Homo sapiens: one gene and its partner. The protein of the gene in region 1 interacts with the protein of each later gene in a pairwise test. Each region holds a gene or a part of one and is shown in the gene's direction. Other genes may lie near its edges. The genes, in order: ACOT7 and NCOA5.

What was found.
Region 2: the proteins of ACOT7 (region 1) and NCOA5 interact in a two-hybrid assay, tested with the Homo sapiens proteins (one large-scale study listed by BioGRID).

Annotation. Positions count from the first base shown.
Region 1 is NC_000001.11:6,278,552-6,282,362, reverse strand, and holds part of ACOT7 (cytosolic acyl coenzyme A thioester hydrolase), read left to right. Parts: intron 1-1,076; coding exon 1,077-1,261; intron 1,262-3,811. UniProt on the Homo sapiens protein: Catalyzes the hydrolysis of acyl-CoAs into free fatty acids and coenzyme A (CoASH), regulating their respective intracellular levels.
Region 2 is NC_000020.11:46,069,252-46,073,062, reverse strand, and holds part of NCOA5 (nuclear receptor coactivator 5), read left to right. Parts: intron 1-2,526; coding exon 2,527-2,853; intron 2,854-3,811. UniProt on the Homo sapiens protein: Nuclear receptor coregulator that can have both coactivator and corepressor functions.

The DNA of each region.
Region 1 (3,811 bases):
GCCTGGTGGCCAGTGACATCGATGGTGACACCTTCCCGGGGCCCCAGGTCAGCTCTTGGCTTGAGTCCTTCCATCCCGTAGCTATCCCCCAGGCAGGGTGTCTCATGCCTGCCTATAGGGAAGAGCTGAGCTCCCTGAGATTAAGGGATTATGTTGAGGCCAGGTAGGAGGATGGAGCCCAGGCCGGGGAGGGTGGTGGGGGCAGAAGAGCAGCTCTGGGTCAGGAAGCTTCTGCCAGGATGGACTGTCGTGCCCTGGGGAGCGTGGGGCGTACAGAGAGGTTGGTTAGGGTTGAGGGGGAGAGAGGGACATGGGAACAATGTATGGGAACTGGTGACTTTGGACTTTGTCATGATTCACAGAGAAATGGGGCTGGTGCTTTGAGCATGGAGGACTCTGGCCAAGGGGTGTGGCATCCAGCAGCCCAGAGGAGGAAGCTTTGGTCCCGTGGGCGAGACCAGTGGGGCCAGAAGGGAGGCTTGGCATGCAGTCACATAAGATTCAATCCCACCAAGGGGCACGGGCAGCTGCCCTGTGTCACTGGAGCCCCTGAGGGTGGGAATGGCTGTGGAAGGTGATACAAGGTTCTGTCTTGGTGCTTGGAGCAGTGTAGTGGGGCAGCTGTGGCTCCGGTGGGCACCAGCAAGGCCAATGAATGGACAGTGCAGTTTGCAGATTTGGCCCTGACCTAAGGAAGGGCAGAGCCAGCCGACACCCACAGCTCCTGGAAGGCAGTCTGCGGCCTCCCCCGTGGGGGCACAGTGGCTCTGAAGCCTTTCAGCAGGTGCTGCCACTCCCGGCCAGGAGAGAGCCCGCCTGGGCGGGGGCTTGAACTCATGGCCACCAAAATCCTTCAGTGCTGAATTTTAGCGTAGATAAACCTGCTCACTAGAAAGATAAACATTCATGGGCAACTAACGACACATTCTAATATTCTGTTATTTGAACATCTGGTAGTCAGCCAAGCCACTGCTTCCCCTAACCAAGTGTCTGCCTGCTGACCACAGAAACGCCAGTGTCCCCCGCCCAGCCGTGGGGTGGAGGCCGCCCTGACCCCCGCCCTCCCTTCTCCACAGGCTGCGTCATCACCATCTCGGGACGCATGACCTTCACGAGCAATAAGTCCATGGAGATCGAGGTGTTGGTGGACGCCGACCCTGTTGTGGACAGCTCTCAGAAGCGCTACCGGGCCGCCAGTGCCTTCTTCACCTACGTGTCGCTGAGCCAGGAAGGCAGGTCGCTGCCTGTGCCCCAGCTGGTGGTGAGTGCGCATCCTTGGAACGGCGGCCCCTCCCTGCCAGGCAGCCCTAGGGTCCCTGTGTTTGGGCCTCCAGGGGGAATCTGTGCCTGCATGAGTCCTGTCCTGTCAGTAGGGGTCAGAGTAGGGCTGGGCCTGGCCACTGCCGTGACCGGTGACCTCGGGCTGCGGGGCTGATCCGGTGAGGCCTTGAGAAGGAACGCTTCATAACCAGCGGGTAGGCCTTTGGGCTGTACTCCCAGGGCCCGTGGGGTGGGGCTGGGCAGACAGGACAAGAGAGACAGACCCCTTTAAGAGCGCCTTAGCATGGCTGCTGCCTGGGCGTCCAGGTCGCCTCTGAGTGTGGCGCCTTGGTGTTCCCTGGCATTGTGTAAGAATGCTGGAGGGGGATGAGGACCGTGCCCTGGGTCCCCCATCCTCTGCTGAAGGGCCTGCTGGGAAGCTGGAGGGGTGGGCTCCCTCCAGGTGGTCCTGGCCTGCAGGTCCTGCCTGATGAGACCAAGCCAGGCTGGTGGGCTCTGGGCTGAGGGTCCCAGCCCCTTGGCCTTTCTCCTCCTCATGCAGGGCAGGTGGGGTGGGCGTGTGCAGGCCACACGCACTCGTTCACAGGGGCTGCTGCCCCCAGGTGTCCACATCCCCTGAGCTCTGCCACGTTTGAGAGCTGGTGGTTCTCCGCCTGGCATGGACTCTGTAGGGTCACAGACATCGACAGGGTTCGCGCGGCCCAAAGAGGCAGCTTCCCTGTCTCTGTCATAAGAACAGAGGTTCCCCATCCTGGCTGACCCCAGGGGCTCTGCAGCCTTTGGGGTGGTCCTGATTTCTCTTTGAACCAGCTCTTGTGTCTGTCACTGAGGGGAGCAAGAGGAAAGCAGAGCTGTAGGAGCTTCCTGCCCCTCCGGGGAGCGAGGATGCGGGAACAGAGCAGCTGGGAGCAGGCGGGTGCCCGCAGGCCTCTTGGGAGCTGGCGTTCTCATGGAAGTGGCCAGGCAGGCACCACGGCCCTGCGAGGCTGACCCCTGATTCCAGAGGTTCTCGAGGCCCCTGCCCCCGCGGCGTCTGCTCCCCACGCAGATCCGCAAGCATTTGCTGCTCAGCCTCCCGGAGAGGAGCGTGCACTGAAATCTCTGGGGCGAACATGCACTGAAAACCCATTCCTCTCAGAGCCTGGAGCACGGCCTGTCGCTTCCCCACATGGCTGAGGAGGGCCGCCGAGTCGCCCCAGCTGCTTTGTTTCCCAGTCGAGGCTGAGGCCCCTCCAAGCCCCTCTCCCAGCCCTGCCCCTTCCTGGAGTGGAGGAGCTCATGCCTCACCAGGGCCCGTGGTGGTAGCGCCAGGTGTGGTGTGTGAGCTGTCAGGCCCAGCGAGTACCCTCCGCTGCCAACTCCAGGCCAGCTCTTCGCTGGAGTTGGGTGCCGGCCTCTCCCAGGTCGGGTGGGCTGAGTAGAGGAGCTGATGGTGAACCTGGACTTGATGGATGAGGAGGACTCGGCCAGGCTGAAAGGAAGGAAAGTGAGTGGTGGGTGCCCCCAGCACGGCACTAACACAATGCCTGTGACCCACCCTTGCATGACTCTCGTGACCAGGCCCCTCTTTGACTTGGGGCTTACGAGGCATGCTCCCCTTCTGGTGCGAGGACTGCTCCATGCCTTCAGCCCCACAGCCTCTTCTGTGGCAAAGTACCCTAGGCTGCCACCCTCCTGCCCCATCAGGGCTGGCTCTGCTGCCTGCTCCTTCCTCCCTCATCTGCCCCCACCCCTCCCCATTTACTTGTAAGCCTACCCGCCTTGCCCTGGCCCACCGTGCCACCCATCGGCCCTTGGCAGGATGGTGTCCTCCCTCCACGTCGCCTGGGCTGGTCCGCAGTCGTTCCTCAGCCCCTGACCCTGCTATGAGGCTCCAGCCTCCTCTGTCCTTGACCTTCAGCCCTGTGTCTGGTTCTCCTTTCACCTTGGACACGCCTTCTCCAAACTTGCCTGCTTTTCTCGGCCATGAAGTATGGGCTCCACTCCCACCTGGGCCCGCTCTGGTCTCTCCCCATGGACCCGACGCCCCTCCCATGACGCTTTTCAGCGTGGCTGCTGTCTGTCCTGATGCTGAATCCCCCACCTGACCCAGGCACATTTCCGAAGCTCTCTCCTTCCCCGCCCCCTACCTCTTCCTGCCTCCTGGACAAACTTTCCCAGTTCTGTCTTCCCTCTGCGGGCAGCATGGACAGACGCAAGGACACGCCCTGTCTGCTGTCCGCTCCCTGTCTGTAGCACAGCTGACCAGGCCCTCAGTGAAGCCTGCGCTCCCTGGATGGGGGACCCTGTAGTGTCTGTAGGGATACTCCAGCCTCCCCGGCCACCACACGGTCCCCGAACCCTTGGCTTTGACATGTCCTAACCTGTGGCCCTTCTCTCCTGGGGTGGTCAGATCCATGGTCTGTGCCTCGAGCATCGCCTGTGTGTTGTATTGACTCCCAAATTGACTTGGCCAGTGCTGCCCCTCAACAGGGTTCCCAAAAGCATCACAAATACAGTTTGTCCTGAATGGAACTCATTATCACACCCG
Region 2 (3,811 bases), on another chromosome or scaffold:
TCAAGAGAACTTCTTATTTGGTAGGGAAGCCACGTAAACAATTACAGAACAGTGTGGTAAGTGCGGTTATAGAAGTTTGTACTGGAGCAAGATTCATTCAACATACATATAGAGCATCTGTCGTATAACAGACATTGTTCTACATAGTGGGTTTGTAGTGCAGAATCAAAGTGACATAGTTCTTGTCCTTGTGGCACTTGTAGTCTAGTAGGGCAGACAGACATTAAGTAAATATGTAATGTCAATTTGTGATAAATGACAAAAGTGAAAACAGTGCTATGAGAGAATTTTAGGGGCAGAAAGTAAACTTTGATTGAATCTAACAATCAGGGAGTAGGGGATATTTATATGCTGAGACCTGGAAGAGGAGTATAGATCTCTTCCTGCTACTCACGTAAAGGGATCAGGAAAGACGTTGGCTAGGCAGAGCTGAAAGGCCGGTGTGGCAAAGAGTGGTGAACTAGGGAGAGGGTGTGACAGGGTTAGAGAAGACAGGAGCCAAGATTATACAGGACCTTCATGGCATTGGTAGAGGTTGTAGATTGAATTCTAAATACTGTGGGAGCCTGGCACAGTGGCACACATCTGTAGTTCCAGCTACTTGGTAGGCTGAGGCAGGAGGATCACTTGAGCCCAGGAGTTCAAGGCTGTAGTGTTCCGTGATCCCACCTGTGAATAGCCACTGCACTCCAGCCTGGGCAGCATAGGTGAGATCTCATCCCTATAAAAATAAATACATACTGTGGGAAACCAGGGAAGGGCTTTACATACGTAACAGATCACTGTAGAGTGATCTTTCTGGAGAAAGATTTGGAAAGAGGCAAAAACAGAAATGAGGAGACTGCTTTAGAAGGCTCTTGCTGTGGTTTGAGGGTGAGATGATTATGCGCTGGCCTTCAGTTTTGCCAAAGAAGGTAAAGGAAAGTGGGCAGAACTGAGAAAGAATGGAGAAAATTTGGAAATGTGGTTGGAAGGGAGGATGAGGCTTTAAGGGAAAGATGACATCCAGTTTCGTGGCTTGAGTAACTGAGTAGTTGGATGTGCCATTTACTGAGATGGGAAGGACTGGAGGAGGAGCATGGTTGTTGGGGAAGATCAAGAGTTCAGGGCAGGTTTTACGGAGAAGGTAATCCTTAAAGCGGGTCAGACATAAGACATTGTTGTAAAAGGGTAAATGCCAGATCAAGATGAGTAATACAGATAGAAAGTGCCCTGAGCTGAGCAGAAGAGATCAGCAGTTAGGAAGGGTAGGGAAGGTTTCTTGGAAGACATGGGACACGAACTTGCCTGTGTGGATTGGATGGTACTTGGATTAGTGCAGGAAAAATATTCCAAGTATAGAAATCAAATAAATAAAACTATTGAGATAGATTATATCTTGTGAGTTATAAGAATTAAGTAGAACTGAGGAGGTTGAATTAGAAATGAGAGGGAGATAATAGCTGTCAGATTTATTAGGCTTTCTAACATAGAAGTTGGCATTTTAGGATAGTTAGTGTATTTATGTGTTGAATGAATTGAAAGCAAGTAGGTTGATTTTTAATTTTGTGTTTTGGAAACCTGTTGGTGTCAGAATAGAAATAAGGGCTTGGATTGGACTTACAAATCCAATGGGAATGGAAAGAAAAAGTGAACGGGACACAAGTGACTTTATTGGGATGGGGGAAGAAAAAGCATAGTTAATATTCAAGAACTTAAAACTTGATAAGTGGAAAGATGATTTTGTCAAAAGTGGAAAAGTGGGGAATGGGACTGATGGGGTTGGGGTAAGAAGTTTTTAATTTTAAATATGTTGAAGAGGAGTTTCCAGTGGGTTGAAACGTCTCATGAAGAACATTGAGTCAGAGCAGACAAAGCATATCTGTGACTTCACTGTTCAGGTTGTTTTTTTGTTTTGTTTTGTTCTCTTTTTTTTTTTTTTAAACCATCTTGAGCAAAATGGAATCAGCTTCTACGTAAACCCTCAGATTGAGAGATACCAATACTCAATAGCCCTGACAAAACAGAGAAACAGATTGTTCTTGGTCCTTTACTGTATGTATCTTATAGTAATTTTTTCCCCTTAATTTTATTATCCTGCCAAGATACTTCAAGTGCATTTTCCGTACTTTAAGGACAGTTCCTTTGATCACTTTTATAAGATTGTGCCATTCGCTCTTTTTTTCTTCATGAGTCTTGCCTCCTTACTCTGTCACTCCAACTTTTTACCCCTTGTAAAGTCTCTTTCAAGCAAGTCTGGTGGAAAGACACTTTCACTTTGAAAGCCTGATGAATACTGTTATCCAGTCAAAACCTTCAGTTTTTGGTCATGCATTCTTTTGATGTCCTAATCTTTTGAGATTGTGGAACCTCTAGACTATTTGCTGACCAGATGGATGACTGGCCTTAAATGTTGAGTCATGTTCTGTTTGGCTGCCCTGTTTTAGAGAAGAATGCTTGGAGGGTGGGGGTTTTCTCATATGAAGAGCTGATGGGTTGGCTACTTTCAATTTCTTTGTCTTAGCATTTTCTTGCTACCTCCCACAGGGATCCATATGGCTTTGGAGACAGTCGAGATTCAAGGCGTGATCGATCCCCAATTCGAGGAAGTCCAAGGAGAGAGCCCAGGGATGGCAGAAATGGCCGGGATGCCCGGGACAGCAGAGACATTCGAGACCCCCGAGACTTGCGGGACCACAGACATAGTAGAGATTTGCGGGATCACAGAGACAGCAGGAGTGTGCGCGACGTTCGGGACGTGAGGGATCTTAGAGACTTTCGTGATCTAAGAGACTCTAGGGATTTTCGAGATCAGCGAGACCCCATGTACGACAGATACAGAGACATGAGAGACTCCCGAGATCCTATGTACAGGTACATACGTAGTTACTCTGCTTGTTTTTTCCTGAGTTCTTTTTATGTATGTTCTGCTAAACTAATTGAAAGCTCTGTAAGAGCAGTCATTTTATCAGCCTTTTATTTCTGGTGACTGTCAAGTGATAGATGTGCTGCTGCTCAATAAATTTTGCTGAATGTATGAATGATTTTCAACATTTTTAACAGAAAATAACAGTGTTGGAAAGGTATGGAGAAATTGAAACTCTGAGAAATTGTAGGTAGGAATGCAAATTGGTATAGCCACTATGGAAAACAGTTTGGCAGTTCCTTAAAAAGTTAAACATAGAATTACCATATGATCTATCAGTTCCGCTCCTGAGTATACACTCAAAACAATTGAAAAGAGGGACTCAGTTGTACATGAATATGCATAGCAGTACTATTCACAATAACCAAAAGGTAAAAACACTCCAGATGTCTATCAGCAGATTAATGGATTTTTTTTTTTTTTCTTTGAGACAAGGTGTCATTCTGTTTCCCAGGCTGGAGTGCAGTGGCATGATCACAGCTCACTGCAGCCTTGACCTCCCAGGCTTAAGTACTTCTCCCACCTCAGCCTCTCAAGTAACTGGGACTACAGGCATATGCCGCCACACCTGGCTAATTTTTTTGTATAGACGTGGAGTCTCACTGTGTTGCCCAGGCTGGTCTTGAACTCCTGAGCTCAAGGTATCCTCCCGCCTTGGCTTCCCAAAGTGCTGAGATTACAGGTGTAAGCCACTGTGTGGATTTGTTTTTAAGTGGTGTATTCATATAATGTGGTATCATTCAGCCATAAAATGAAATGAAATTCTGATCTGTGGTACAGCATGAAGGACGTTGAAAACATTATGCTAAGTGAAATAAGCCAGACATAAGACAAATATTGTATGATTTCACTTTATGTGAAATATCAAGAATACGCAAATTTATAGAGACAGAAAATAGATTAAAG